Regions from separate parts of the Homo sapiens genome. Here regions 1 and 2 are each linked to region 3. Evidence: fine-mapped expression QTL. A gene starts in region 3. Each other region holds a variant in brackets. All regions are shown on one strand. Distances are between the middles of the regions. Region 1 overlaps LOC124901047 (a long non-coding RNA gene). Region 2 has its middle 43 kb from the start of KCNN2. Region 3 holds the start of KCNN2 (potassium calcium-activated channel subfamily N member 2).

Evidence for each region. PIP is the estimated chance that this variant, and not a neighbour inherited with it, causes the effect.
Region 1: its variant is the best candidate, but not a certain one, in a credible set for the expression of KCNN2 in lung (TOPMed, PIP 0.55).
Region 2: its variant is the best candidate, but not a certain one, in a credible set for the expression of KCNN2 in lung (TOPMed, PIP 0.59).

The regions. Positions count from the first base shown.
Region 1 is chr5:113,866,120-113,876,702 of GRCh38, reverse strand. All of the region lies in intron 1 of LOC124901047 (a long non-coding RNA gene), which reads right to left. Among named protein-coding and RNA genes, the nearest start is that of YTHDC2, 360 kb to the right of the region's middle. The variant A/G (reference allele first, on the strand shown) is at 4,787.
Region 2 is chr5:114,313,800-114,324,382 of GRCh38, reverse strand. It overlaps a transcript of KCNN2 not described here. Among named protein-coding and RNA genes, the nearest start is that of KCNN2, 43 kb to the left of the region's middle. The variant G/T (reference allele first, on the strand shown) is at 5,483.
Region 3 is chr5:114,356,549-114,367,131 of GRCh38, reverse strand. KCNN2 (potassium calcium-activated channel subfamily N member 2) reads right to left here and starts at 5,062. Exons shown (of 8, transcript NM_021614.4): 1 at 3,871-5,062; 2 at 3,131-3,226. The coding sequence starts at 4,992. RefSeq lists a silencer at 5,785-5,994 and an enhancer at 6,033-6,949.

The DNA.
Region 1 (10,583 bases), 490 kb after region 3:
TAAAATTTTAGGGGTAAAGAGTAATATTAGTTCCAGAAAAACTAAAGACAGTTCATTGTTCTAGCAAGACTCTTCTGAAAAAAATAAATAAATAAAGGGTCATGAAAAAGGGGCCTAATTCTTTGAAACTGAGGGCAGTTACATTTCCCATTAAGAAAACTCACCAAAGATATAATACACATAGTTTATACTGTCTGAGCAGTGAAAAAAAAAAATTCTTACTGAGTTTCTGAACTTAAAAATAAGAAAATTTTGTGCACACAGCCCCAGGTCTGGAAGACAGCCTTGACATTTCTCTTCACTTTGTAAGTCCTGGGAGAAGAAACCAGTAAGGAGATGGAAGGAACAAAGCAGAGGTCTCCATGCCCATCACCCAATACATCTAGGAGGAAGTGAAATTGTGAGCTTATGCCCCCGACACATGCTATAGGCACTGGGAAACATCTGGGGAGAAAAAGTCCAGAGGTTGTCCAAGATGTATCTGTTTATTCATTTAGCAACGTTTATTGCGAACTTTCTGCATGAAAAGCACCACCATGCTAGGCAAGACAGGAGATGTAAGATATTTCAAATGATGACTCTACTTTCTATAATTTTCTCACCTGGCAACCTGGCATAAAACAAAAGTATGATAAAACAGCAAGTATCATAAGTTCCACATAAGTGACACACATAAAGAGTTTAAAACATTTAGTGCAAAGAGAAAGAAAAAAAAAGCCTGGCCATGTTTATGTTTAAAGAAATAAAGAAAGCACAAATTTATGACAAGTACTCCACAATCCCAGCTCAGAAATTCCCAGAAGAAAGTCAAGTTTTCTCAAAGATTTAGTTAGAGAGAGAGAGAGCGCGCGCAATGGCCCCGCATCCTTATACCTCCGTTTTTATTTTTAGCACAAACAGCATTCTTATGCTTGGGAGCCACAAGACCTAGCCATTCTGCATCTTCCTGTGGGCATCTACAGTATGTAGGTGACTTGTCAAGAGAGCAGCTCCCTGGTCTGCTTCAGGGACTCATCACAACTGGCCATCTGAGAAATGCCATTGTCATTTTTAGGTTGGCAAGTGCCTTCCCTTCTCATGCTGCTCATGTGGTGACAACATTCAAATAATCTAATTTCAGTAAAACGTGGAGCTACTAGAGCAGTTTTAAATAGGAATTCACTACCGATTTGCTGTGCTTTGCTTTTTCCTGGATGTTATAGCCCCTGCCCTGACCTCTGTGACTTGGGAAAATGAATATCATTTCTCCCCCTTAATCATCACACAGTCTCCAAATAAAAATAGTGGCTCCTCAGAGGAGACAACATGCAATTAGATGTCTGCAGTTTTGCATATTCTGAGCAAGCAATTTAAAATGTCAAATAGTGAGCAGTTTCTTTGTGCTTCATAAAAAGACTCCCCCGATTCCCCCAGACAACCCATTTGCAGAATTGCTAGTAAATCAACATAATTTGTTTTCCCTGAGACTATGTTTTGCCAGGGAAACCTCCTTCAAAACTGCTGAAGCTGCTGCAATTATATAAAATTATCGCATCTCACAATAAGGAACTTCCCTATAATTGGTCATGCAAGTGAGGAACAATAATACATATATAATTTAGACACAGAAGACTAACCTTGAAAAGCAGCCTATTGTTCCCAAGTTAGTTTAATTTCATCAGTGTTCCTTTTGCTTTATAAAACCCCTGAATTTTACAATTCAGAAGATATTCGTTATCCCAGGGACACACACTTTGCTTCGGTGAATTCAAATATTTAGTACATAGTGCATGTCCAATATTTGAATGCAATTACACCATCATTGTGAAGTCTGTGGCTGCAGAAAGAAGAATAATTAGCCCCATTTTTAAACAATTAACAGGCAGACTTCATTCAAAAGCTTTAACAGAGAGCCAACAAGCAAGTACTAATATCTAATTCTACATACCTGGGCACCACCAAAGAAAATGGATCAGAGCCCGAGGCACAGACATTTGTGAAGCGCTTTCCCTAAAAGAGAGCTGCCCAAAGAAAACAGCAGACTCACCCTCATGCTCTGTTGGTATACACATATGGATCTAACCTTGGTCAAAGAATGCATCTAAGATTTAAAAAGACAGTTAATTCTAGTGGCAAAAAGATTATGAAAGCCAGGAAAGCTGAGCAAAAAGCAGTGTTTTCACTGACCACTGGTATGATCACTGCCACATCAATTTGCTTCTTTAAAACCCCATTTTCTTAATACCAAGTGAAGTATTTGAGTTACCTGAGCTCTATGTGATTCTTTTACTATAAAATATTATTAATCTACCTATGATGAATGCTTGCTATTGCACAAAGGGTTGCTATGGAGTTATGGCAAGAGTATGGTCTTGAGATTGACAGGTCTGGGGTTGACTCCAGTTTTAAGGTATTAGCTTTGTAAATCTATACAAAGTACTAGTTTGTTCTCAGAGCCAGAGCTCCTTCAACTACAAAACAGATTTGGGAGAAAATTAAATGTTTACCTAGTGTCAGTTAGCATTTTAAAACTTAGCTTATTCCTCAGAATAATTAAAGCAACTCTAGGTAAAGTTGTGAAGTAAGTGGAGGCTGCCTAGAGTCCGTCCTTCCTGCATTTTTTATTTTTCTTTAAACTTACACTCCTGCCTTCCTGCTGTTTCCTCCTTCTAAACATGAGAATCAAGCCACACTAAGATGAAGGAGATACAATGTATTATCAGTATTTATATGCAACAGTAGCACAGAGGCTAAGAGTCAGTATCTAGAGTCAGACAGATCTGAGTTCAAATCCCGACTCCTTACTTTACATGCAATCCTGGGCAAGTTAATTAATTTCTCCAAGACTCAATTTCTCTGATTATAAAATGAAGATAAATAAATCTACCTATATAGAGTTGATATAAAAACTAAATAACATGGTCATGACACACTTAGTATTAAATTAGGTACAAGTGAGTGTCTAATAAACAATGGTGCTGATTATTATTTATTCCCTCACCCTGCCAATGGCTCAAATTAGCTTGTAAATAAATAAAAACCTTCTATCTTTACACAGCAACTTAAGTCACACTTCCCCTTCTCTGCCTAACTGATCTGTAAAAATCTATTACAGGCTTTGTATTTTACCTTTTTCAATCTTATCATGTTCTTTTGACCCTACACTTACTTTCCTTTCTCTCTTCCAGCTTTCTGCTGAGGAAAAGGCAACTCCTCTGGTCCTGCCTGCCTAGGATTCTACCTTCACATTTCCAGCATCACTAGTTCCTTCTCATTTATTCCTCCATCCATGCAGTCATGCAACAACCTTTGGAGGAGTACCTTCTATTTATCAGTCTTTGTTAGGAGCTAGGAATACAAAACTAGCACATACTGACTTTAAGCAGGTAACTGCAGAACAGATAGACATTAAAGAGGCAACATTAACAGGACTTCAGGATTGATGGATGTTGCAGATTGGGAGTGAAGTTCACTCCCTTTAACCTCTCCCCAAGTTCTGCTAGAAATTCTTTCTATGAATTTGCTTCTGTCTGCATATTCTCCTCTGCTAAGTACCACTATAAGGTAAATTATGCAATATTGAGAATATCAATGTAAAGGGGATAGACTTTATTTAAACCCTGGGAGTTCACACACACACATATATTTTCTTAGAGACAAATTTTCCACTATCTGAAATTGGCAGCAACAGACTCTGGGAAAGGAAAGTTCAAGTACTTTGACCATGCATATGCTTAATAATTTTGTTTGGGACCTTAGAAGCCTGTAAGAATGACTTATCATCTCAAAATTATAAGGTCATTTTAAAGGCCAGAGCCCTATTGATGAAAAATACGAAACAAAGAACTTGAATGTGCTTCAACTTTGCAAAGAAAATTGTTTGCCATTGTGCAAAGAAAGCACATGCTATGCATTGAGTCAAGTCAACAAGTGCCTAAACTTAAATTACTCTGCAAAAATAATGTGAAAAGTTTATTGGTTCTCATAAAAGTGGTGAGGAAAAGGGTTGGGGCCCTGACTCAGGAAAGTGGAAATGAGAAAGGGGATTCTGGGAAGATCAATGACCTCCAGCAATATGGTGGCAGGCCAGAGTCAAGAAGGAAAGAGTCAGTAGGAGGCCCATATGTTGTGCATGTATAGACTTCAGAAGCAATGTTTATAACCAGGTTTGTTTTCTTTTTCTGCAGTGTAAGTCACCTGTCCCTCTCCTCCTTGCTGCACTAAAACTTACTAAAGTCTGCTTAAAATACTTTGTGTCCATTGAGTGGGTAACATTTAAAGGAAGGTCTGTATCCATACATAGCATGAAGGGCAGCAGGGAAGCAGCTCAATAACATGGAGGTGGTTTCTGGAGGCAGCCAAAGAAACGGCAAGCGGAGCCCCATTCAGCACAGTCGTTCAAAGGGAGGTGCAACCAGCAAAGCACGAAGACATGTGAGCATTCCCTGGGATCTTCAGAAATCATTGAAACAGGAGTAGATTTCCCAGGCTTACATGAGCTGCAGGCTCAAATTACTGTTATTTGCATAGTAAAGGGAAGTGGTCACTCAAAAGTGCTTGAAAAGTTGAAGATATTAAGGAGGGTAGGTATATTAGCAGGGTATACTAGGGAGGTTCTTACAGAAGGAAATATGTTGGTTTTTAAGATAAGGTCCTAATACAATTCAGTGTATCTTTAACTAACTTCACTAAATAGGACACAAGTAAAGCCTCAAAAGCAGCCAAATCCCAGACCTCCCAAAGGTTTTAGAGTAGACCAGGAAGTCCTTCTGGTTCTTTAAACATCATAAGGGCATGGCTGAGGAAT[A/G]CTATGAGGAAAAGGTGGGGAACACTCAGCTGCCCTTTTCAGGGGCCTCACTGGCTTATTTCTCTTATCAGCGAGGTCCCTGAAAGATGTGTGATGGCTTCCCATTCCCAGAAAACCCCATTAAGAATGACAGAATCCCAAATGACTGCCAACTCTTTTGCTACGTATGTTGTAAGATAGGAAATCTCCCACTTCTCTTCATAACCTTCTACAGCTTTTTAATCATTTACATTCAAAAGGCTCTTATTATCAAATCATTGATCTCTTACAGAAATTCTAGCCCAATTCTTTCCCTTTGGCCCTCCATGATATGAAGAGCCACTAGTCAGCATTATCTCTGTACCTCCTTATAGTCCTGACTAAAAGATTATGGGGTGCTCCTTCTCATTTTCTCTCACAGGCTAGACAGCATCATTAATTTTCCCTCACAGAACCATTTCTCTAAATCATCCCCTGGATAATTTCTATAGCTCTAGCCTCTCTGGTTTTCTGTACTTTCTAATTTTGAATAAAAAGCAAACTGGAAATAATTGTTTAGCACCAATGAAAACATACTAAGAAGATACACAGTTCCACTTTTATATCACAGTTGTTCCAATGGCATACTGATCTTTAAACTTTAAAAAAAAATGTTGTTCACCAAATTCAACTTTGAAAACCTATATCAGTTGTACCAGTCTGCTGTGTGCTGAAACAGTTAAATTTCCATTCTGTTAGTCAGTGTTCTGCTCTATAGAAAACTTTTTAAAACATTTAGTTTGTTTTTTTTTTTTTAACAAAATCCAGTTGTTAGAGAAGTTACTCAGAGCAATTAAACCAAACACAGCTGAAAGTTAACTTCAAAGTCGATAACAGAGTTGTCTACCAAAGCTACTCTTGTTCTGTTCAGGTCATTGAAAACCTTCATGGGCCTGATCTAATGACATTTTCTGCCCTCATCTTACTTGATGCCTCATCAAACTTCACCAAAAAAATCTTTATTCGAAGCATAAGGGAAGACCCTTCTCCAGCATGACCTTACACTCTTTGGGTTTTCCTTTTCCCTCTCTAGTTATTTCTCCCAATCTTTTGCTCACTTCTCCAACTCTTCCTAACCTCTCCCTCTTTTTCTCAGGATCTGTGGTGAGCTGTCTTTTCTTCTACTTGAGGCACTCCCAGTCCCTTCTATGGTTTCAATTACTATCTATAAATCAAGGAGTTACAATGTATCATTCCAGTCCAGGCTTTTATTTGAAGCTCCATAAAATATATCTAACTCACTCATCAACATCTCCATTTAGATATCGAACAAGCAACCCCAGTTCTTGCTCTAAGACTAAATACATGATTGCTCACTCCCCCACTGCTCACCCCTACGCTGAACAAACCTACTTGTTGTGCTTCCTATTTCCTAGCTCAGGAGTTGCTCTTCCAGGAAAAATCGTGTTATCAATACCCTGATTCCTACACCCTCCATATCCAATCCCTCCCTTGTCTGTTAGTTCTATTTCCTAAATTATTCAAACACATCTATTTCTCTCCACTTTCATTGTTCCTTTGTTTATCCCAGCTGCCATCACCTCTCTCCTGGATTTCCAAAAACCTCCTAACTGGTCTCCCAGACCTATTTATATCTTCTCCAATAAATTCTTCACTTTATAGTCAGAGTAATCATTTAAAACACAAAGGGCTCAATGTCATGCCCTTGCTTAAAATTTCTAAGTGAATTTCTATACATTTAGTATAGACAACCAAAAATCTTTAACATTCCCTGCCTGACCTGGTCCTGAACAATCTGGCTTCTGCCCATATTCTAACCTGAGTTTTCCCCACCCATTAAGCCACACTGGTCATCTTGCAATCCCTCAAATGTGCCAGTCTCTCTCCCCTCACAGTCTCCCCATGCAGTTCCCTCTGCCTGAAATGCTTTTCCACATGTTCCTTAGTCAGCTAGCCTCACTCTTACTTAATGTCTTAGCTTAAAATAAATACCTCTTTCTCAGAGAAGTAGCTCCTGATCCCTGCACTGGATGTGGGCTAGACAGTGGTGCCACCCCATGTCTCCTCCACATTTTTCCAGCCTCTCTTGCTGAAGGATAGGGCTTTGTGACTAGCTGTGCTCTGCTGCCTGGCAGCGATGACATCACCCTTATCTGAAGTAGTGACAACTAGGTGGGAATTCTCCATGGTCTCTCTCTTGTTCTTGTGGCTGAAAGCAAATGATTTTATGATTATGATGGTGGAGTTGTAAGACTATAGCGTGAATGAGAAATCAACCCTTGTTGCATTAAGTCACTGAAACTTCGGGATTTGTACTTTTCACCAGAACACAATTTAGTTCATCTTGACTAATTGCCTGTCAGATGCCCTTTGCTATTCAACCTCCTGTCCCCTTGTACTATTATATCCTTGGCACCTACCACAGTGTTGGACATCTAGCACTCAAAAAATATTTGTTGAAAAAGTAAATAAATGGGTAAAATACCACAGTGTACAAATTTACAATAATATCATTTCAAAAAGATAAAAAAGATTTCAGACAACAAAGTAAACTTCTTTGATATGATTCTTAGAAGACTATGGATTTGGCTGGGTGTGGTGGCTCACGCCTGTAATTCCAGCACTCTGGGAGGCTGAGATGGGTGGATCACAAGGTCAGGAGATCGAGACCATCCTGGCTAACATGGTGAAACCCCGTCTCTACTAAAAATACAAAAAAAATTAGCCAGGCGTGGTGGCAGGTGCCTGTAGTCCCAGCTACTCAGGAGGCTGAGGCAGAAGAATGGCATGAACCCGGGAGGCAGAGCTTACAGTGAGCCAAGATCGCGTCACTGCACTCCAGCCTGGGCGACTAAGCGAGACTCCGTCTCAAATAAATAAATAAATAAATAAATAAATAAATAAATAAATAAGACTATGGATTTAATTATTATTATTATCTATATACTAAAAAAAACCAACTCTCTATATACAGTTAGCAAATAGTGATTAAATCCATGGAGTGGAGAGCAAAATCTACAAGTTAAATTGAGGAACAAATAGGTCCAAGGACAAAGCCCTGAGAATAAGCAGCCATTAAGAAGTGAGCAGAGAAACGGGAACTTGCAGAAGAAATGGGAATAGGAAGAGAGAGGAATAAAGGAAGCAAGAAAGGGGGAGGCCAAAGGAAGAAAGTATGTTGAGAACCAGGGAATTGGTTCCGCACCAGAGAGAATGTGTGACTGTTTTCTATGATGATTTACAAGTGTCTTCACAAATACTGATCCCTACCTGGACTGTTCTTTACACATCTATACATCTCTCTTCTTCAATCTTCCACAGAACTCCTATTTGTCTTTGAAGACACACCTGAAAATTTGCTTCCTCTGAAGAAGGTTAGGACTTCCTGCTATATATTCAGTAGCACTCTGATCTTTTCTTCAAAGAACCATCAGAATTGCAGAACGTTAGAAATATGACCTGCAATATGACCTTAGCCACTTTATTTCTCTTCCTAGGGAAGAGAGGATGAAATACAAAAAAAGTAAGAAGTTAAAATTCACTGGAGGATTCCCTTTTTAGAAGTTAGAGAAGGAGGGCATCACAGGAATGACTTTTTTATGTCATCTTTGCACAGAGACCTGGCTGGATTAATACAATGCTGAGAGAGATTCTATGGGTAAGAAAGAAACCTATTAGCTTTATTTTTCAACTACAGACACAAAAATATAAAAGACTTTGAATCAAAGAAATTATCTTTTTAAATATTTTACTTATTAAGTTATTATCTCAATAAAGTATATCTTAAAAATAAAATATTTTTTAAACAATAAAAATCTTTTTGAGGCTTGAAGATGGTACAAAGTATAAATAATTGTATCATAGAATTTAGTTTTTATAAAGTTGTTATATTTCTTTTCTCTAATTTGGTCTTGAGGTTTCTCTTACAAGAAACTTGATTATACTGGCAGACACCCTGAGGCTGTTATTTGATCTGTGTCTAGTTTACTTCTACTAAGATAGCCATCCTCTAGGAGAGCCCTGACGGGGAAAGAAGTTGGGTTTGGTGTGTCAGTCAGCTGAGACACAGAAGAAGCAATTCAACAAAACACATGAAATAGCGGGAGCAGTTTATTACTTACAGATCCCAGAGAGAAGAGCCAGCAGGAAGTGGAAGCTATCTGGGACATGCACACTCCACCAGTGGGTGGACAGTCAGAGAGACAGAGTAAGAGAAGTCTGTGGACCAAAGTCTTTATTGAGGTTCAGAGTGCTACCCAAGCAGGTTTCCCAAGGGGAGCACTAATTGGTGGGTTTAAAGCAAGCAGGCACAAGTTCTGTGAGGTCTCGCTGTGTCTCAGAGATGCCCACTGTGGCATACCTGCACAGTCCATGTGCGTTACAGGGGTTAGTGGAGCGAGTCAAGTAGGTTGCAGCTAGCTGTCCCATGGAGGGTGGTCACAAGGAGGCAGTTGTCTAAAACAGACATCTGGAGAAACTGGGAGAAGGTGGTGAAATGGAAACTGTCAAAAGTCACTAGGCCCTGCTTCTGGTATGAAGTTCAACTTATATTCAAAATGGATGCCGATGCAATATAAAATTATAAGAATTTACTACAAAAGTGTCACTCTAAAAATATCTCAGTTTGTTTAAAGTTTGGTTTGTTTGAACTTTAGAGGTTTTATTTTTGAAAGAATTATTTCTAAGTGTGAGGATACAGAGAAGCCACCTCCACTACATTTAGGAGGCCACCCACTAAATCTTAGGGTGGGCAGAGCCTGGCTGTGCACCTACATTATCAGGGCTCCATCCAGCCCTCTGGAGTAGCATCAGAAAATTGCAGAAGCAGCTTCCTGAAAGACAAAATCTGAAAAATTAAGATGACAAAATGATAGCTAATGTCATAGTCAGGACTTGGAAAACACAATTAAGAGAATTACTATGAGGAAAAATGTGGCAAGTATAAGCCACATCAGACTGAAAGGATACCACATCAAAGGCTGCCATGCCCACATTAACCACCCACATAGAGTGCCACAACTTCAAGAAAGCAGGGGATTTTTGCACCCTTGATGTCTATGAGCAAATAGCATGGGCAGCTCTCCTGCCTCAGCACCATAAGAATATTCTGGAGGAAACAGCCTGTGCACACAGAATATTTGCAATTTAAGGAAAAAAATGTCCAGGCTATGATACCCACCAGGAGAAGATGGAAAGAACAATGAGACTAAGAGTGAAGAGACCTGGCTTTGGCAGTAGAGTGGCCACTAGCTTCCTGGGTGACTGTGGACAATACACTTCTGCTCACCAGGTCTTGGTTTCCCTCGGTACATGAAAAGAGCCTTTAAAAAAGACCAGCTATTCCAAAACTGTGCCATCAGAGCTCTAGCCCAAGAGTTCAAGAGTTCTTGGAGGCTTCCATATTCCCCTTCCCCTTCATTCCACAGACACTTCATCCAGAGCAGCTGCACCTTCATGTGTGAAGACCTGAAGCTTGAGGTGAGATTTCATTTGAACAAAGGGTTTTCGCATAACAATAATGTTAACTGTTTTTTCTTCAAAAAGGTTGACTTGATTTCATCCCTTTTGGCCCCATACAGGTCAGCACACTGACCATCTCTCTTCACCAGCTGAGTTGAGTCAGGATTGTTCCAGCCTTCCAAAAGAAGCTCTAAAAAGGTGACCCAACCAAGGAGGTTTCTTGGGTCTTTGATTTCAATCTGTCTGCTTGAGCACTTCCTTTCAAGTAAACTGCCTGAGGTGGCAAACAAAAACATAAAGACTATTCAAGCAATATTCCAGAGGTCCTGCTTTTGCACTGTATATCTTTTGTTTGCCC
Region 2 (10,583 bases), 43 kb after region 3:
AAGGATGTGTGTAATTAAATTAGGCCTACCCATGTAATTTAGGATAAGCCCCATATCTCAAGGTTCTTAATTTTAATCATATCTGCAAAGACCTTTATTTCATATAAAGTAACATACTCACATGTTCTCGTGATTAGGACAAGGGGGAGCCCATTATTCTGCTTACCACAATACTATTTAATTTATATTTCATAGGTGTTGGTACAACGTATGAAGAATACATCCTAATAAAAGTTATTCTTTAATGAAGATGACAAAAAAATGGTCAAATTAACAATTATTTTGATGTATTGCTTTTTAGCTCATACTCTGTGAATACCTGTTAGTCTGTTAGATTCTAGGAAGATTTGGTTTATAATTATAGTAATAACATTTAATATTTTATAGGACCTTATAGAACACAATGTGCTTTCAGATATCACTGTTTCACATATTAAAATATTTGACAGGCTGGGTGCAGTGGCTCCCAGCACTTTGGGAGGCCAAGGCGGGCATATCATGAGGTCAAGAGATTAAGACCATCCTGGCCAACATGGTGAAACCCCATCTCTACTAAAACTACAAAAATTAGCTGGGCATGGTGGCACATGCCTGTAGTCCCAGCTACTCGGGAGGCTGAAGAATCTCTTGAACCGGGCAGACGGAGGTTGCAGTGAGCTGAGATCAGGCCGTGCATTCCAGGCTGGCAACAGAGAGAGATTCCATCCCGACCAGCAAAAAAAAAAAAAAAAAATTGATATGTTTATATCATGATACTTATTCTCTATACTAAACATGGTTTCTGTCATGTTTTCCAAAGAGAAAAGAACAAATCATACCATATCTTACAGATGTGAATTTTTATTAAATTAATGCAATTTATACTGTACATGAAAAAATAAACATTTTTCTCATTACTTTTTTAGTTTTATTATCTTTAAAGATTTAAGAGCTTAAGTGGCTGAACTTGAAATGTCAACTCATGATAAGTGCAGTATTTGGTGCTTATGATGGTACCAAAATGAAATGAGTACACTCTTATTATTTCTAATTTATAGATGAGAAAACACTGGCACAGAGACATCAAGCAACTTTATTGAAGTTTCACAGCTGGGTAGTAACTAACACAGGTTTAAACTCCGGAAATGTGACTCCAGAGACGATGCTCTTAACCACTGTGCTTTGCAGTTTCCTACTGAGGAGCTTTACTGTTTATGGTAGCTTTGAAATTAGGTACCTGTAATGTAAACCGGGGTTCCTCTTTTTCCAGGAGGAGCATGGATTCACTTAAAAGAAGCATAGGCATTTTATTTTTAGCAAACTAATGCAGAAACAGAAAACCAAATACTGCATGCTCTCACTTATTAGCAGGAGCTAAATGATAAGCACTTATGAACACAAAGAAGGAAACAAAAGACACTGGAGTCTACTTGACGGGGAGAGTGGGAAGAGGACAGGAGCAGAAAAGATAACTATTGGGTATTGGGCTTAATACCTGGGTGATGAAATAATCTGTACAATACCTTCTGTGACATGAGTTTACCTATGTAACACACCTTTACATGTACCCTCAAACCTATAATAAAAGTTAAAAAAGAAGCATTTTATGTTTTAAAATATATTACCATCAAAATGTAAAGTTATACTTAGCATCTCAAATAAATAACAAGGGAGAGACTGTACAAGATCACAAAGGTTCATTGAGATCAGTTTCTGTCGCTTTCAAACCTTTCACATGCTTAGCTGCAGCATCAATTAAAATACTCTGTTACTCAGCTGTCCTGGAATCAAGTGTGTATGTGTGTGTGTGTGTGTGTGTGTGTGTGTATGGGGGAGTGTATGCATATGTGCACATGTATGCATGCAGTGTGTCCTGAAGTTCAATGAAAAGAGTACTTGGAATGAACATATTTTATTTATAATCTTTGAACTGTAATTAGTGTTTTCACATAAAATAAACAGATATGACTATATGAGATTTGGGTCTCCATCAGGTTCTGAAAATTTACCTTCTAAGTAGACTTCAGAGAATACATTAAGAAAAATCCTAGTTTTTAGTCAAAGATCATTACAAACAATTACAAGCCTTTCTTTCTCTACTTACTAGACATTATTTGTCTTCCAATAAATGAAATGGTTGGTCTAGAAGAATTTTAATGTCTCTTTAAGCCCCAACATTCTGTCATTTTCTGGTTGAGGAACTTACTACAGTAGATTCTACAAATAAACTAATTTTGAAATACACCCAAGAAATGGAAAATTTAAACTGGTGTCTTCATGTTATTTGCAGCTTAATTGTGAGTTTTATTGTAACAGAATATTGGAGAGAACTTCCAGTTGTCTTAGAATGTTATTGAAAACTTCTAAGCTGAGGAAACTGGGTAATAAATTCTACCACATTCTGAAGACAGAAGCTAAATACATCTTCACAGCTTCTGTGAAATATCCAGTGACGGCCAGGTGTGGTGACTCATACTTATAATCCCAGCACTTTGGGAGGCCGAGGCAGGCAGATCACCTGAGGTCACCAACATGGTGAAACCCCGTCTCTACTAAAAATATAAAAATTAGCCGGGCATGGTGGCACGTGCCTGTAATCCCAGCTACTCAGGAGGCTGAGGCAGGAGAATCACTTGAGCCCAGGAGGCAGAGGATGCAGTGAGCTGAGATCATGCCATTGCACTCCAGCCTGGGGGACAGAACAAAGACCCCCTCTCAAAACAAACAAACAAACAACAACAAAAAAAAAAAACAAATCCAGTGAACATTATACCTGAGAACTGATGTAAGAGATGGCAAGAGGTCCATTACAAAGAGGAAACAATGAAGGATTTTTCATGGTTGAGAACATTGGAATTTACCCTTCCTTCCCTGTGCTTTCATTTCCTGCCACCAAGTCAAGTGAGGGGGCTCCAAGAGAGCTACTTATAGACAAAAGAGTTGTATTCCAGATGAGGAGATCTGTATATCCTTCAACCCCCAACCTGCACCACAGTTCCTGAGCTTTTAGAAACATGTAGACCTGCCCCATGCTGCTACCAGAAGATGAAGGGCACTAAAGAGTTCTTAGCAGAGCTTGGGAGTCTTGGAGTTTGGGGGCACACATGAACACAAGACTCCTTATATAGAGAAGATTAAGGTGAAAAATTGAGTAGAACAAACCCTCAATATAAGGTAAGGAGAGAGAAGAACAATGGGGGTAAATTGTACTTCTATGGTTTGGAAAAGCAAGACTTCCCCAGCAATCAACTCAATGCTAAGAAGGTACCTGGGTTCAAAGGCATCCTAAAAGGACCTCTCTATGCAAAGACGTGGGAAACAATTGTAGAATTGAGTGAAATGGCTAATGTGTAAGCTACTTTTCTTTCTACCCACAGGGACAGCAGGAGCATGGGAGGATTCTAAGGGCTCAGCTGGAGCCTTTCGCATTCCATCAGAGATCTGTGCAATGTGGGGACATCAGAGATCTGTGGATGGGGTATTTCCTCTTGAACCTCATGAAAAAGCTAACATTTCAATGATTTCCATGACAGGATACTTGACAGTTAAAAGAACTGAAAAAGATAGCATCAACTAAAAACAAACAAACAAACAACACTATTCTTTTACCTGTCACTATCTCTATCCTTATGCTTTCTCTGGAATGAATGGAGAAGAAGATACATGAAGGATGGAGAGGAACAAACCATGCACCCTACCCCTCCAAACCTGCTTGTGGGATCACTAGTTGGGCCAGATCTGGTGGAGAGGGAGGGGCTTGGGATTGGATGAACATTTTTTTTTTTTTTTTGAGACAGAGTCTCGCTGTGTCACCCAGGCTGGAGTGCAGTGGCGCGATCTCGGCTCACTGCCAGCTCCACCTCCCGGGTTCACGCCATTCTCCTGCCTCAGCCTCCCGAGTAGCTAGGACTACAGGTACCCACCATCAGGCCTGGCTAATTTTTTGTATTTTTTAGTAGAGACGGTGTTTCACCATGTTAGCCAGGATGGTCTTGATCTCCTGACCTCATGATCCGCCCGCCTCAGCCTCCCAAAGTGCTGGGATTACAGGCGTGAGGCACAGCACCCGGCCTGGATGAATGTTTTCTTTAAATTGGACTAAAATTTTTTTTTAACCCTCACTAATCTAATACCCTGTAGAACCAAAAAAAGGTCTGGGACATGGCTGTGATAACATCCAGACCCAAGGAAGGACAGGGTATGTTGATTTTACTCTATGAAATTCACCCATTTAATACATCAGTTATATGACTGTACTCGAATCTTTTCCTGTTTTATGATTACTCATTCATGTTTGGGGATATGAAGAAGGGGATCTGTTTCTATTTATGTGTTAAAATTTCCATTTTAAAAAAAGATGGTGGAGTAACAATGGGTAAACATTTTGTCCACAATTCCCATGAGCTTCAAGGAAGTGAAACAGACAACTGAAAATAGAAGTCTTTCTCAGAGCTCTGTATCAAAGGAAACACTGGATTCCTTCCTTTGACTAACAACCAGGAAGAAAATGGAGAGTTTCTGTAAGCAGATTATATGAGTCACAATTAGCACATAAAAATATTATAGAATGAGACAGCATGTGATGGGACAAAGCATCTTTGATTTGAACTTACCTTAATAAAAGAGAAAAATTTGACATTTTGGCATAATAATGAAACATTATCAAGCATTATATCTTACAGTGTTTGATTTAGAAGCGAGGAGCAATTGTGTTATATTACATTCAGATTAACCTGGATGTGCAACTTAAGTCAGACTTTTGCCTGAATATATAAAGATTTATTTATAATAACCATGGCAAAGGAGTAGAGATTTACATATAAAACAATGATTTTCTAGTAGCAACTCACCTCAGCTTTAAATATATTTATGGGCATAAAACCATCCTCCTTTATCACTCTGAGCTTCAGGCTGTATTCTAAATTGCTATATATGACAGAGTTCATTTCTATGATGAATTTCCACTGTGCTGAGGCAAACAGCCAACTGATGACAGAAAGGCAGTACCAAAGGCTGGGTATGAACTGCACGGAGATATACCTGTGTAGCTTCTGCTTTCTCTGTCTTCATAGGGCTCTTCAGGGAAACAGCTCATCCCCTTAAGAAGCCTCCCTGCAGGGAGATTCAGGGTAGACACAGCAATGGAGAGGGCTGGAAGAACCTCAGTGTGCAGATAAGACCAGTGGTGGGAAACTGACTGTAAGAAGGGGCCAGTGGACTTAGCTGCTTTCCCGCTCAGAATATGAAGGCCATCCTTAATCTATTTTGTCTCCCCTATTCTTGGTAATCACTCAGTCTCTGGGTGGGAATGAGTATATTCCTGAATATACCCCTTAGCCTCAGGATTTATACAGAGGTCTGTGTACGTTGGGGGCACAGAAGAAAGAAGAATGAATGATAAAATCGCAGAGTGGCATGGCTGATGTCTCACTCAGTATCTTTGAGCCTCAGTTTACCCACAGTTCAATCACCACTCTCCAATGTCTTTTTCAGCTGTAATACT[G/T]AAATAGTTCAGTGAGAATAATTAAAAGGAACACAATCAAAATATGAACATAATACATGCTTATATAGGAAACAAGATTTCCCAGAAGCATAATCCAAGGATTATGGAAGAACATTTATGAAGGAAGAGAATCTAAACTGTAACTATGATTTATACCCACAGTGTATAAATTTAGTCAGTGAACCCTGAGTAAATCTAGATTACAGAAAGAATGTAATTACAGTGCCTGCCAGCCTGTGAACAATAATATGGTATAATAAATTATACATAATAATTATATATGAATTATCATATACAATTATGTATTCTTATATAATACAAAATTACATTATGATATTATCATTGTTATGATAAGTGTATGATTATATATAGTGGTATAATATAGTACAATATAGCTACAGTTCATACATTATCAGAAGTTTCAACTTTTTCAGATCTGGGGTTATAAATACATACCTTAAACAAGATATATACTCTATTAATACGTATGTAAGTGGCCATCCTTCAGATTTTACTAGGAAAAAAATATTTTTGATGAGAACATCAAACAAACAACAATGAGTGGTAATAAGGATTTGACAATGGTAATAAGGATTTGATAATATTCCAAAATAAAGTATGGGTAAAATCTGAAGGTAGGGCACTTAGAGAACCTGTCTTTAAACTGTATTGCCTTTTCCTTAAAACACAGCATTATCCTGCCTAAGCAAAAAGGAAACTAAACTAATAAGCATCTCCAGAAAGTAGAAATATAATGAGTCCAACTGAAGAGCAGACAGGAGATGAGTAGGACAGTGTCAGGTAAAGAGCAGACAATCAGTATAGTGCAGAGATGGAACAAAAAAACACAGGGAATGTGAATGGACTTATCCTTCTAGTACACCATAATAAACATCCACGTGTACTGTTGATCTGTTGCTTTCGTTTGCTCATTATCCCTGCCCCCTCCCAGTCCCTTATCTCTTATCTCTTCAGTGCTTTACAACTCATTTCATAGTCATACTTGTGCTGCCGTGAAGATGGGCAGGCACGTTGCCTGCGGCAGGCAGTCGCTAAGAAACATGCCCATTTTGCTAAATATGTGAGTATTGTAGAATTTAGCATAATGGCTAATGTGTAAGCTACTTTTATTTCTACTGGTATTTCATCTCTTTGCTCTGAATTGTCACCTGAGTTCTCCTGTGACATAGGATCTACTTCCAAAATTCCTCCTCACTCTAAGACTTTCTGTAGCACATAACTCATGGAGGTGCAGGACTCTTCAGAATGGTCAACACCACCATGAGAAAGCTACAGCCAAAAACAGAGGAGGGAATGGGATCAGAAAGTCCCCCAAAAAATGTAAGTCAGAAAGAGGTTAATTTCCAGATAAAACAGATTTGAGATCAACAAGTATAGTCTAAGAAAGAATGGATGATTTTTGCTATCATTGCACACTTTAAACAATGAATAATATAATTGGCATGAGCGATTTCAGATATTTTGATTAAGAAGCTGGGATCTCTGAAGTCAAAGTTACCTTGTGAGGGGTTGCCTAAACTAAAAGTGAATTAGAAAAGGCAAGCCAACAAGACACTGCAGGTCCGACGATATAAGCTTTGTAAAAAAGTGTATTTCCTTAAGATAGGCTTGAGACATTACAAAGCTGGCTTCCTGAAAAAAAAAAAAATTGGATCAATAAGCTTCCAAATCTCTATAGTCCAGACAAGGCTCTATTTTCTTTTTATTTTTCCAAGATCTCAAGGGGCCATGGCTCAAAAGCAGAAAGTTATAGTAATAGCATAGGGCCAGTAGAAGTTCACTAGGAAGAGAGATGAAGGAATTGAAGGAAGTGAAAAAAAAATCTGGGAAAAAGCTGCAAGGATGTCACTCTGCTGAAAAGCCCCTTCTGGAAAGCACTTGCTGATCTCAAAGGGCCTTAGCATGAGCTCAAGGTTTGGAATTTATTCCATAATCATTTACCAAATGACTGCAGTTTTCAAAGAACACCCTGGACTGTTCCTTTCCTTGCCTTTTTCTTGTGCATGTGGACTCAGGTATGACTGACTATACTTATATTCACAGATGAGTACAGATGGCCAGACCTGAGTCCATACACACACATATATGCCTTAATATTATAACTGCATTAGAGCGTGTTTTAAATCATGGCTGGACTAGATAGCGATATGTATTAATGATTTAGAGATATGGTTTTGTAATATGACTGATTGGGTTACATTTTTCATATGCATTTATTTTGGGGACCATGTTAACAGCTTTTCATACACCATTATTCCTGAGAACTCTGGGTTTCTGAATCCAGAATAACACAGGATCAAAGTGAAACTATTATTCAGCAATTCCTACTGCTGGAAAAGTACCCAACAATTGTGTATCTGCGGGTCTGCTTCTCCCCAGCTGGGCAATGTTGAGTACAATACCTAACTTCTTTGAGCCTACACGTTGGTATCTGTAAATCAAGGGCGTTAAGCTAGTCTAGCGGTTTCAAAATCTTGTTTTCTGAAGTCTTAAGTTTCCTCAGATGTATCTTAGCTACAAGCTCAGGGGCCAGGAGGGGGCTCCAGTGACCTTTGATTCTAAGAGAATAGTTTTGCTTCTATTTGTCTTATATTTTGGGACTCTGTACAGGATGTCATGGGAAAAATTATTACTAAAAATAAATTTATAACAATCCACACCTATTAATTTTATAAGGTACCATGCTGCATCTCCTATAAGTCAGAAGAGCTCCTGGCAATTTAATTTAGGGGCTCCTGATAGATGGAAGATATGCTAAAACAGGTTACAACACACACACTATATGCGTGTGTGATGAATATCTTTCAGTGCTGTGTTTCTTATTGCTGCATGAGTAAACTTATTTCAAGATAGTCTCTCAATTTGAGGTTCCTTGGTAAATACAAGGCCCAGACCAAATGGTTTTTTTTGCCTCCTTCCAACTCCCATCCTCAGGACAATATCTGATTCCTAACAGCTTCCCTACTCTATATCTCAGCATATCTTAGGTAACTCTGCTTCTAGGATTTGAATGTTCCAATAAGGTCACTCCACAGAAAGGCTTCTCTATCAAGGACCCAGAGAACTCCAAAGTGCTTTTTATCTGTTTCTATTACATATTTCTTGATATAACCTTTAAAAAGTATGTTAACAGGGTTACTCTATTTCAATAAACACATCATTTCAATAAGCAAAATATTTGACTAACCCAAATCCAACAAATCCAACAAAATAAAGAAATCTGGATAGTTCTCTGAATTTTCTGTAATGGGAGATGACAACTATGCCTATATGTAATCAATGTTAGTGATTTTGTGAAATGTGAAAATATAGTAAATTTATTTTAAAACCACTAAAATAAGTAATAAAATATGAACATGAATCACAAATAATAAGAATAGTCCACTTTTAAAACAGAAGTTTTATATATATATACACACACACACACACACACACACACACACACACACACACACACAGTTTCTGCCTTCCATGGGTGGTACACTCTAAACCTGCTTATTTTAGTGTGTTCCATGCTAGGCATTACACTTGTCTCTTTGGTATCTCTATAAAATAAATACGAGCCCTATATTTGCCCAGATATATCCAAAGAACCCAAACTATTAAGTACCTGTAACTGGTGAGAATGTTGCTTGAATTAATTGAATTCACCAGGTATAATAGTTTATGAGAAACATAACCCACAACACAACATACAAGGCCACAGAAGAACAGAAGAATGGAAGGTGCTCAAGTCTTCCTGGGACAAGGATGGTTGAGAGCAGTGAAGCACAGATTCTGGTTCCTGTTTGCTCCCAATATAAGAAACCTAGGTTGGAGTCACCATTACCATCAGATCCTGTTGATTTAGTAGCCTATGAATCAAGCTCAGCTGTGGATGAGGAGGCAGCAATCAAACCTCTGTGTTCTTGTTAGAGGAACTAGCCTCAGTGACATGCTCAAATATACTGGTTTTAGTTCATTTTGGCATTTGTGGATTTAACCCTCATGTTTAGAGGGTCCTCAAGAGCACCTTAAGGTCCATGCCATGTAGCAATTTATTGTTTTGTAAATGAATTAGTTTGAATCTTATGCTTCAAAGTGTAATGTGCAAGAAGGAGTCACTTGGCAAGTGAGTGGGCCTGGGTTATCTCTAAACAACTACACTTCAGGCTGGCTATTATTATTCTACACTTTGGCTGCCTGTACAATAACTTTTTGGTGGTAAAATTTATATTCTTTCTGAAAAGAAAATCTTCTGCTAGTTCAGTGAGGAAAATGAAGGGAAAATAACATAAGTAAAAGGCATGCTTCTCAGCCAGAAAGTAAAAAATTTTTAAAGTGAAAAGTTATATGAGAAATGGCAAAAATATAGAGAGGATTAAAAAGATCAGAGGTTGCCAGGGTTTAAGGGTGGGGAAAAGAGGAATAGGTAAAACATGGGACATTTTTAGGGTAGAAAAACTGTATGACACTGCAATGGTAAATATATGACATTACATATTTGTTAAAAGCCATAGAACAGTGCAACACAAAGAGAGAACCCTAACACACAATATGGACTTTAGTTAACAAAAGTGCATCAATATCAGTTCATCAATTGAAACAAATGTTCCACACCAGTGCAAGGTGTTAATAGCGAAACTATGCAGGGGGGAAGTGATATATAGGAACTCTGTGTGTATTTTCTGCTCAACTTTTTAGTAACCTAAAATTGCTCTAAAAATAAAGTCTATTAATTTTATTGAAAAGTTGTTAGGAGGCGGCTCCCACCTCATTTTGTTCATGTCCTATACAACATGAACAGCTACACAAAAACTGTAGAAACAAGAAAAGTGATCCACGAAATCATTTTAGTGAGTGCTACTCCCTGTGCCAAAGCTGTTGATCAAACCGAAAAAGAAACGTTCATCGAAGTTGATTAAGTAGTTATTTGGTTTTGTCAATAACAACAAAAAAACACTGTTTAACTAAAAAGTGATTTTAGAAGAAGCAAAAAGCCCGTAAAAACATTTCATGAAGCAACCAGTGAGACTTTGAGACTGATTCTTATGAATTACACTGACCTTTTCCATGAGTAAACTTTAGGAAGTATTCCATG
Region 3 (10,583 bases):
CATTTTATAAAAGGTCACACGGATCTGCTTTCCAAGGTTCTCCATGAAAATGTCAGGGCCTCCTCTTGCTTCATTAAGCAATTCCAGAGGACATAGAGCCAGAAAGTCAGCTATAACACTTACTTTTCCTGAATGCAGTGAGAAATCATATCATGCACCAGAAATCTGCACTGGCGAGCTTTTACTATCTGATTATCATACTGATATGCTAAAAAGAAAAAGCTAAACTGTCCTTTTAGATTATATGCTACATCCAAGGACACGCTATGAATGGCAGCATAACCTTGCATTTAGTTTCTTAACTCAAAGCTAATTGATATATTTGGAATTATTTAGCGTGAGCTGAGAAGTGCTCATTAGCTTAAAACTTTTTATGAAAAAACATATATACCCACAGCAGTGACATCAATAAGTAAAAAAGGAGGGCGGGGGGCAATTCATCATTTTCCATGCATATACATAAGCCTGAGCAGTTGGTTTCATTGTGTTTCAGAATAAGGTATTTGACAGCCCTGCTGACGCTCTTCTCTGGACAAATTAGAACATCTTTACCTTTTTCTGGTTCTTGACTTCCAGTTCAGGGTCTTCACATTTGTTTGGCCCTTCTCCATTTTATTTATTTATTTTTTAATAAAAGCATCTCAGATAAGAATTTGGAGCTTCAGCTTAAAGGAGAAATCCCTCTAGATAATACACCGAGTAAAAAAGCTACATCCAAATTAATTAAATGACATGACCCAAGCATCTATTTTGAAATTATCTTAAGTATAGTGGGTTTAACAGAAACCACATATCATATAAAATAAACCGAATTTTAAAACATATATCATTCTATAACGTTTATGTTGACCAACAGTAAGGAAGTTCACTGTGCATATTTGCCGTGGAGAGTCATTCCATGTCATTTTTCTCACCCATGCAATACATACCCTAATCAAAATATATGTGCATATGCATAATTGAAATGGTCCTCAAAATTAGCCAATGAGTGGAATGCTTTCAAGCATTAATCTATAAAAATATGATTTTTTATAAACTTCTGTAAATTTTAAGCGTTCTAATATGACATCAATTTTTTCAAATAGTTAACATTTGGTAGCTCTTAGACTCCTATGAATTACTTCAAAAAATCTCCCAATAATTCTTAAAGAGTCAATGTTTTCAAGACACTTTGTTTTTGATGTTAATACCAGCAAATGTCCTCCCCCATGAATGTTTCTTTAGCTGTGTGATTTTCACAAGGAACAGGCAATAACACAAAGCTGATATTTAATAAAACCCAGCAAGATCTCTCATTTCAGAATCATTAAGCAAAACGACTCTGTCCTCCAAACAAAACATTTTTCAAGTTAACTTGATTTTTAAAAATATGTAAGAACATTTTGGAATGATCTTTTAAGTTTAACTGAATTTATATACCAAACTTTTGGATTTAGAGGGAAACTGCAGAAAAAGAAATATTCACGTTTCACAGTTTTTGGCATGTAGCAGCAGCTCGCAGAGGAAGCATTATGGCCTGGAAGCTAGGATAGGGCTGGTTCTCACTGTGCACTGTCTAGCTGTGTGGCCCGGCAAGCTACCTCTGCTGATTTCAGATTCCTTATCTGTAAACTGAGTCAAAGGACCATTAAACCTATTTTGTTCCTTCCAGCTCTAATTGTCTACTCTTCAAGTCAAAATGAAAAGATAAATTTCTAATGTTTAAGTTATATTTTAGTATCACTTTAAAATGTTCAAAATAATCTCAAAAGCCCAACCATCACTAGTATTGAATTAAAGATGAATCTATGTAAACTGTTAAAACTTTAAAAAATTCAAATGTGTGTTCATCTCATTTTGTCAGTGCAGTTTTGTAATTTATTTCTGAGTAGTCTCACTCTTTCTAATTATCATTCTCCAACCTCATCCCTTCAAAAACACATTTTTCAAAGTTTTACAAGTATAAAGGCAACGTGAAGTAATTTCTCCCTCTGCACTTGGAGTAATGTGCATCACTATTTTGTCTGGGCATCATTAAAAACGATTTCTTCCATATTTACTTTGTGTTTGCTAATTACTAATTTAAAATTAATTTAATTTAAATTAATACTAAATTACTTCAAAGGCAAATCCTATATAAGATTTTAAATTGAAAGGCAGCTTAAATCTGAGGCAGTCTAAAGGAAGATGGCCTAAATTAAGGGTCTCAAAGTACCACCAAATGTCTAACAACTGCTCAAAAAAGAAAAAAAAAAACTCAGAAAATACATAGTGCAAATTCTCATGCACCAGGACCACAGGACTGAGCCACCGCGCCTCCCACACAGTGCAAATTCTAAGCTGAAAAAAGTCCCAATCTAATTTTTGAAAACTCTATACTTATTTTAATTTAAAAGCCTTAATATTCCTGTGTAGGCTAACAACTGACAAGATGACCCGTAAGTTTTATAGAGCATTCTGATATGGATACTAACAGTCAAATATAGAGCTCCTGGCTGCATTTAAACAAAAGAAATATTTTCAAAAAAAAAAAAAAGAACTCACAAGGACAGTGGCCTTAACTCTTAAATTACATTTTAAAAAATACTTCATGACTGGATACACAGAATTTGCATTCTAAACTTACAACAGTTTTTTTTAATGGTGGGGGATTTAGGAAGGGGTTAGATCTTTTCCCATATCTCATTTATATAAATTAGCTGGCAACTCATCACCCAGTTTTCTTCTCTATGCTAAATTACAGAAGATTATATAGATAGATACAATCTCCCATAATGACGCACCCACTAGGAAGAGGTGTCTCAAACAAGAACACAAGTTCATTCCAGATTAAAACTAGAGCATAACTGGCCTTAAGGAACAAAATGTGACTGATCTGGAGAAAAGGATCCACCTACTGAAGAGAAGTAAAAATCTTAAGGGTCCAACAAATACACCTCAGAAAATGCTGCATGTTTATATGCTACCCTGCCTTGTGTTGTTTTCCACTTCCTGAAAGAACAGGTCAGGTGCTAACGGTAACAATACAGCATGTGTCTTCTGTAACCTCAAGCAAGGACATGATGGCTTGAAAAAAGCCTCTGCTGCCTTGCGTTTCTCTAGGCTGACTGTAGGGCTTTGGGTCATTCATAAACAGCAGGACCTAAGTTACCTGTATTTCCCTGGCGTGGTACACGATGATCAGACCGAGCAGGATGATCGTGGAGAGACTGATAAGGCATTTCAGAGCTAAGGAATACAGCGACGCCTGCAACACAGTCAGACAGAAGCACTTTTAAGAAAGAAGCACTTTTAACCGCCTTCCACGTCCCCAGAGTCAGTCAGTCCCCCACAGGTGGACCTGAACTCACAGAAGGAAGATAAGGGGAGAGGGGTGCACCTGTCTTGGCTCTGTGATCTGTCAGATCACTCGGCCTCAAAACCAAAAGAGACGAGAGTAGACCTGGAAAGACTGGGAAGACGCGTGGCTGGGCTGCTGGGTCCACGCCATAGAGGACCGAAGCGAGCGCCGCTGTTCCAGGCTAGCAAAACCAGAGGAACTTACTTCTGAGTTCAAGAGAGCGGGTTGAAAGGGCCCTTCTAAACATAATTCACGAGGGGATGAATTACAGATGGTTTCCCCACCGACTTCCAGAACCACTTACTTAAGGTGCCCGAATGCGCTGAGCACTCTTAACTGCCTCGAGAACTTTGGCTGCACGCGGAAAGGGTTCATCTCCGAGTTGTTTAGCTGACTACGGATGCGCGTCCTAGACGCGCCCGCTGTCCTGGCGGGCTCCCTTGATCGTCCCGGAGAGGCTAGGGATCCGCACGCAAAGGGTCCCCGCCAGTGCCCATCCCAACCACCCAGTGCCCGACTCCGGTAGCGTGGGCTGGGGTTCAAGCCTGTACCTTGTCGTAGGCGCCCCACGACAGCTCGGTCTCGATGACCATGACCACGATGCCGAACATGCCGAAGATGAGCGCGTAGTCGCTGAGCCGCTTGCGCTTTTCGAACAGGGCGCGCCGGTGGCCCAGCTTGTAGCCGATGTTCTGGTTTTTCTTTTTGCTGGACTTGGTGCCACTGCTGCTGCCGTGCCCGCTCCCGCCACCGCCGCCGCCTCCTCCAGTGCTGCCTCCGCCGCCGGTTCCATAGAGCGCCAGGTTGTTGGAGTTGTTGTGCTCGGGCTTAGACACCACGATCTCGGGGGCTGAGGACGAAACAGCGGCGGCGGCGGCAGCGGCTGCAGACGGGGAGGACGCGCCGCCACCTCCTCCGACAGACGCGGGGGGCTGCAGGGGCTGCGCCTCTGAGTCCATCTCGTGCAGGTTCCGGCGGGACGCGCTCAAGTTGCTGAGCGGCCGCATGACGCCCCCGTTGTACCTGCAGCTGCTCATGGCTATTTCGGTGAAGGGGTTGCTCTCGCGGCGCGCCTGGGGCTGGTGGTGCTGGTGGTGCGCCGGGTGCGGGTGGTGGTGGTGGTGCGAGAGCGGGGGCCCGGAGCCCAGACTGCCGAGGCTGCCCGTGGGGCTGGCGGCGGGCTGCAGGCTGTGGCACTGGTGGTACTGGGAGGCGGACGCCGACTGCTGCGCGGACTGCTGCGCGTACTGCTGCCGGAGCGCACTGGCATGGCTGGACGGCGTCAGCTCGCTCACATTGAGCTGGCTGCCCCGGCGCGACGAGCAGCAGCAGCAGCAGCAGGACGAGCCCGACAGCGGCGAGGAGGTGCGGGTCCGGAAGGCGCCGCCGGGCGAGGAGGTGCGGAGCAGCAGGGACAGGTTATCTCCCGCCCCCGCCGCCGGGGCACCGGAGGAGGCGCAGCTGTTGCACCGGAGGCATGGGCTGCTGCCGCCGCTGGCCGGCTGCTGGTGCGCGAGGTGCGGGTGGTGGTGAGGGTGCGGGAGGGGCGCGAAGGGCGGGCACGGCTTGTCCTGGCTCTGTTGCTGCTGCTGGCAATGCAGGTGTGAGGAGCGCGGCGGCGGCGGCGGCTGCTCTGGGAAGAAGCCGCGCTGGAACTGCAATGGGGTTTCCATGTCAGGGCTGTTAAAGCTGCAGGGAGACCAAGCGGTGGTGCACCCTGCGCAATGCGTTATGGTCGGGAGCGGGGACTCCTGCTGCTGGTGCGAGGAAGGGCCCATGCCGGCTCCGGTAGAATCCAGGCGGCGAGTCCGATTGGTTGGGCGCACCAAAACAATGGGCATGACATCACCTGCGGGGACCGAGACTGAGTTTGCGGCGCGCGCGGCTTAGGGAAGCGTGTGTGGCAGAGAAAGATGGGGAGGGGAATCTGCAGGACAAACCCTAGGGGGGTGCAGTCCAGAGCCAGGGCGCTCCAGGGCAGGGATTCCGCCTGCTGATTGCGTGGAGATGGAGAGCCCCCACGCAGTGCAGCTGGGCTGCAGGGGGAGGAGAAAAGAGAAAGGCGCCCCTCCCTCCCGTGCCGCTGCCCCCTTGACTAGTGCCGGACGCGCTGCCCGGATCACCTGCGCCAGCCACTGCAGCACGTCGGGCCACCTTGGCCGGGGGCAGGCTCAGGGACGGTGTGGAACCCCGACCACTTCTCCGACTGCACGCCTCGCAGGGCTGCAAAACAGCAGCCCCCTCGTCCCACGCCCGCTTCTCCCAGATCATCCCGCCGAGAGTGGGCTGCCGGCTGCCCGCCAAGTAACTGCGGGGGCACTGGCTTTGGGGAGAAAAAGTTTGGCGACCGGCTGCGCCAGTGCAGCAGCGTGTGGGGAGAATCCCGGGGCCTGAGCCCTGCCTTGGCCGCTGCGGGATCATAGCCGACCCCGAGACCGGATCTTTCCCAGCCGGCAGGCTCTGGAATCTGGATTGGGTGCGCGGCGCTCTAGCCCAAGTGCGCTGCGGCGCGGGTAGGGTTAACCGCCTCGGCACCCCGGCCGGGGGTGGGTGGGGGCGGGGCCGGAGGAGGGGATCCCCGCAGTCTGCCGACAGAGCCGGCCGGGCTTCCCGGGTCCCCCCTGGCGGGGGCGGAGGGCTTTCCCCGCTACCGCCAGCTCACATTTGCGCCTTCTCCAGAACATGAGGGGATGGCGCCCCCGGCCGCCGGGTCCTGGGCTCTGGCGCTCAGGCCCTCCGGCAGCCCGAATCCGGAGGTCCCAGGGCTTCCTTGCCGGTGGAGAGGCAGGCGGCTCGCTCAAAGGTGTGGGGGCTGCTCAGCCACCGCCGGCCTCCAGCTGCTCTTCTGCTTCTCTTCCTCCTCCTCACCTGCAGCGCAGACACAAAGCAAAGACCGGTCACAAATACGCAAATATCGAGCATCTTTGCCAAGTCCTAACTGCAGCGGCGGGTGGGAAAGGGGCCTGGCGCGGGCTGATTCACCCCGGTAGTCGCAGCCTGGCAGGGAAATTAAGAATGATAGCTTGGGCTGAATAGTCGCTGCCCACGGACAGTGCTGGAGTTTTGTTGGAGTTCGGTATCATTATTTATTTATTTACTCTCTAATAAACTAACAAAAATTGCATTTGGTGTCTCACAAATTCCCTGTGCTGTCTTCTTCTAAGAGATGTACCAACACAATGCACTAGGTGATCCTTATGTTCTTTGTTTCTGCTCCATCTTAAGTCTTTACATTTGCATTTCTTTGTGAATTCAAATTCCCGTCTCCCCCTAAAGAAGGTGAAAGAAATTGGCCCGTTGAATATTTGTTTCCATTTTAAATTATTTTAAAGCCTGCTTTTCATGATAAAGACTATTACAACGAGTTAGACCTAGCAATTAGAGTGAAAGCGGATCACCCTCATTAGGTCATTAGGTAATTGGAATTCTCAGCTGGATCCAATTTCTTGATATTCTACTCGGCAGCTGCCCTAAAGTTGCTTACCTGGTATCTGCTTTTCAGAGTGTGCGTGTGTGCGCTTTCAATGCCATGGAATGAATAATTCATTTTATGATGTTCTTTGGACACATGTTAATTTTAATTTTTTGTGTGTGCAAATAAACATTCAGCAGAAAAAAAGGGGTGGGGGGTGCACAGCTGCTTTTAGTCCCGTAGCCCTGGACTTGAGCTAATTAATACTGTCCGGAATTGAATTTCTCAATGGTCTTGGTCAAGAATATAATTTAGTGGCTAACAATCAGAGACAGCATTTTGTTTTTATCATCTATTACTATTTTTGTTCTGTATCTTCAAAATAGCAATTCAATAAAACTTCTTTAGAATCACGAAGCTAATTGAGTCTTCGGGGCAGCTGAGTAGATACTGCATAAATTGTGTGGAAAGCATGAGTATTCAAAACAATCCTGCGAAGTAATTTGAATTAAAATGAAAGTTTCCCTATGAAAAGTTACTAACCTGGTCTGAAAAAGAAATTCAACTCATGCGGAAAATCCATCAAACATGTATTAGGACGCTTTTCAACAAATTATGTAGCTTTCCAGTTGCTATACGTAGCGATTGAGTGAAAATGTTTGATTCATCCTTACAAATCTAAATACTTCAAAGGAACATTATGGTAAATTAATAAATATTTTTATTAGCCGTTCATAAATTTAGATAAAAGATTACATAGCCTCCACCCCTGAAATATCATAATAGTTGTTGCCAGCATTAAATTAGATATAAGGTTCTACAGTTACTAAACTGTCATAAGAAAAATAATGGCTGCATCCCTTGTGTCAAACTGACTTTGTCAAATAGCAAATTCACGGCTTCAACAGAGGCTCCAAAACCAAAATAATAGGCAAAAATGTATCTTTTGCCATGTATATCTCTATGCTGTAATATGGGATTAGTTGCAGTGCTATTAATCATGTAGAAATCATGTAGAAATAATCATCTCAGAAATTGCCTACTGAGATTTATGGCAATGTTGCATGGAGTTCTCACTTCTCTTCAAGGGGGTACACAGGAGGATAGAATGCACAAAATTCAGAAGAAAATGGAAATTTGATTCACAACATGAGGGACTGTCGGAACACCAAAACTCAGACTAATACTACTTCCGGCTAGCACTATTTTGAAAAAGCTCATAAAATAATTTAATAATGTAAAACTCACTGTGATTGGACAGAGAGCAAATCAATCAGACATTTATCGGCTTTCTGTTAAGAAATCAACTGATTACACACACTCAGCCGTCTTGCTAATAAATATCTGTATATTGAGAGTGTGGTAAACCTGTATTACTATGATGATGAAAAAACACAAGATAATTTTGTTTCATTTTTAGTCTGAATCATAACTTCATTATTTAAGGCATTTTACACTATTAGGTTATAACAGGCACATTTAAGAAGTTCTTATTTTCATCATTCCTCTTTTAATAAAGTCAACAAATTTTAAGTTTATATGTAGACATTTAAAATGTGCATAACATGATTTCTTTTTTTTCTACACAGGACTGTAGAGATACATGTAACATGTAAAGTTAAATGAAGCAACAAAGGCAATATTCTTCCACGTGGATAGTAGTTTGCACATAGTAGATACTTATTTATATTTGTGAGTACAGAGAGAAGGAGAGAGGAAGGAAATGAAGAAACATTGGGGGAAAAAAAAAGACGCAGATCAAGGGCTATGACTTCCAGTGATAAGCTTTCAGAAAATTAAATTTCCTTCTTTTTGTTCCATTAAAGCATATAAGTGAGAGAATTTCCCTAGATTAACACCAGAGGTCATACTCAGCCACAAAATGTATTTCAAATCTAATCAATTAAATCTATTTCCAGCATCACTTTTTAATAAAAATTGCCTATTTTTTTCTTATGGCCTACAACAATTGCTTTCCCATGTTTGTTGAATTTCAAGCTTGTGAACACGCACACAAACACCCATCCCACACACAAACACATTTTCTTAGAAGCATGTCTTTTTTCAGACCACAGGAGCTTGGGAAAAAAACTTCATCTCCTTCGCCCACTTTTTGATGGGGTTGTTTGTTTTTTTCTTGTAAATTTGTTTGAGTTCATTGTAGATTCTGGATATTAGCCCTTTGTCAGATGAGTAGGTTGCGAAAATTTTCTCCCATTTCGTAGGTTGCCTGTTCACTCTGATGGTAGTTTCTTTTGCTGTGCAGAAGCTCTTTAGTCATGTGTTTTTTGGCTGCATAAAGGAAGACATTTATGCAGCCAAAAAACACATGAAAAAATGCTCATCATCACTGGCCATCAGAGAAATGCAAATCAAAACCACAATGAGATACCATCTCACACCAGTTAGAATGGTGATCATTAAAAAGTCAGGAAACAACAGGTGCTGGAGAGGATGTGGAGAAATAGGAACACTTTTACACTGTTGGTGGGACTGTAAACTAGTTCAACCATTGTGGAAGTCAGTGTGGCGATTCCTCAGGGATCTAGAACTGGAAACACCATTTGACCCAGCCACCCCATTACTGGGTATATACCCAAAGGACTATAAATCATGCTGCTATAAAGACACATGCACACGTATGTTTATTGCGGCATTATTCACAATAGCAAAGACTTGGAACCAACCCAAATGTCCAACAATGATAGACTGGATTAAGAAAATGTGGCACATATACACCATGGAATACTATGCAGCCATAAAAAATGATGAGTTCATGTCCTTTGTAGGGACATGGATGAAATTGGAAATCATCATTCTCAGTAAACTATCGCAAGAACAAAAAACCAAACACCGCATATTCTCACTCATAGGTGGGAACTGAACAATGAGATCACATGGACACAGGAAGGGGAATATCACACTCTGGGGACTGTTGTGGGGTGGGGGGAGGGGGGAGGGATAGCATCGGGAGATATACCTAATGCTAGATGACGAGTTAGTGGGTGCAGCGCACCAGCATGGCACATGTATACATATGTAACTAAGCTGCACAATGTGCACATGTACCCTAAAAGTTAAAGTATAATTAAAAAAAAAAAAAAATTTCATGTTGTTTGCACTCCAATCCCTTATTTTATTCAAATTTCTATTATGCCATTGTTCATAATTCTCTTCTTTATAGTATTGTCTATGCTATGTCTTTTTGTTGTACCTTAAAAAGCAGGGTTCTCTTGACTTTGGGTGTTTTTGGTATATTTCCAAATTCAATCAGACCAGGGGTCCCTGGCATCTGTTTCCCATATTGGGGTGGTCTGAAGGAAAATTTTGACCTACAAAGTAAATGTTTTTCTGAGAATTATTTTTTTCTTTGCCTGGGTGAGTCAACTACAATATTTGGTGGTGCCAAACGCAGAGGTTGTGATGAGACACCGCCACTCTGAACTTACTGTCCTTAGCAATAAATGCCAGTGGGGAATCAGGATAGTATCATTTATTTCCTTAGCACAGTAATAATTCCATGTTTCTGGAAACATAACAATTAAAAGGCCCTAAAAACACCATTATTTTTAAATCACACATTGCCCCACTTTATAAGAAATCTACTAATTTGAAGAAAACATAAAAATCATAATTATTATATGTGTTCTTCATACTTCTGCCTTATGATTATAAAGTATCAAGACATGAATGAGCATATTGGTGATGGTCTTATAAATTTTTAGCAATACCTCTATTTTTTTAGGGGCTAATTATTGTGTTAGGGCCTATCCATTCACTTCCTAACTTTTCAGTTTTTCCTGTTCTCACCCTTGTCTCCTACCGTTTCTCAGCTAGTTAGCATATCTATAA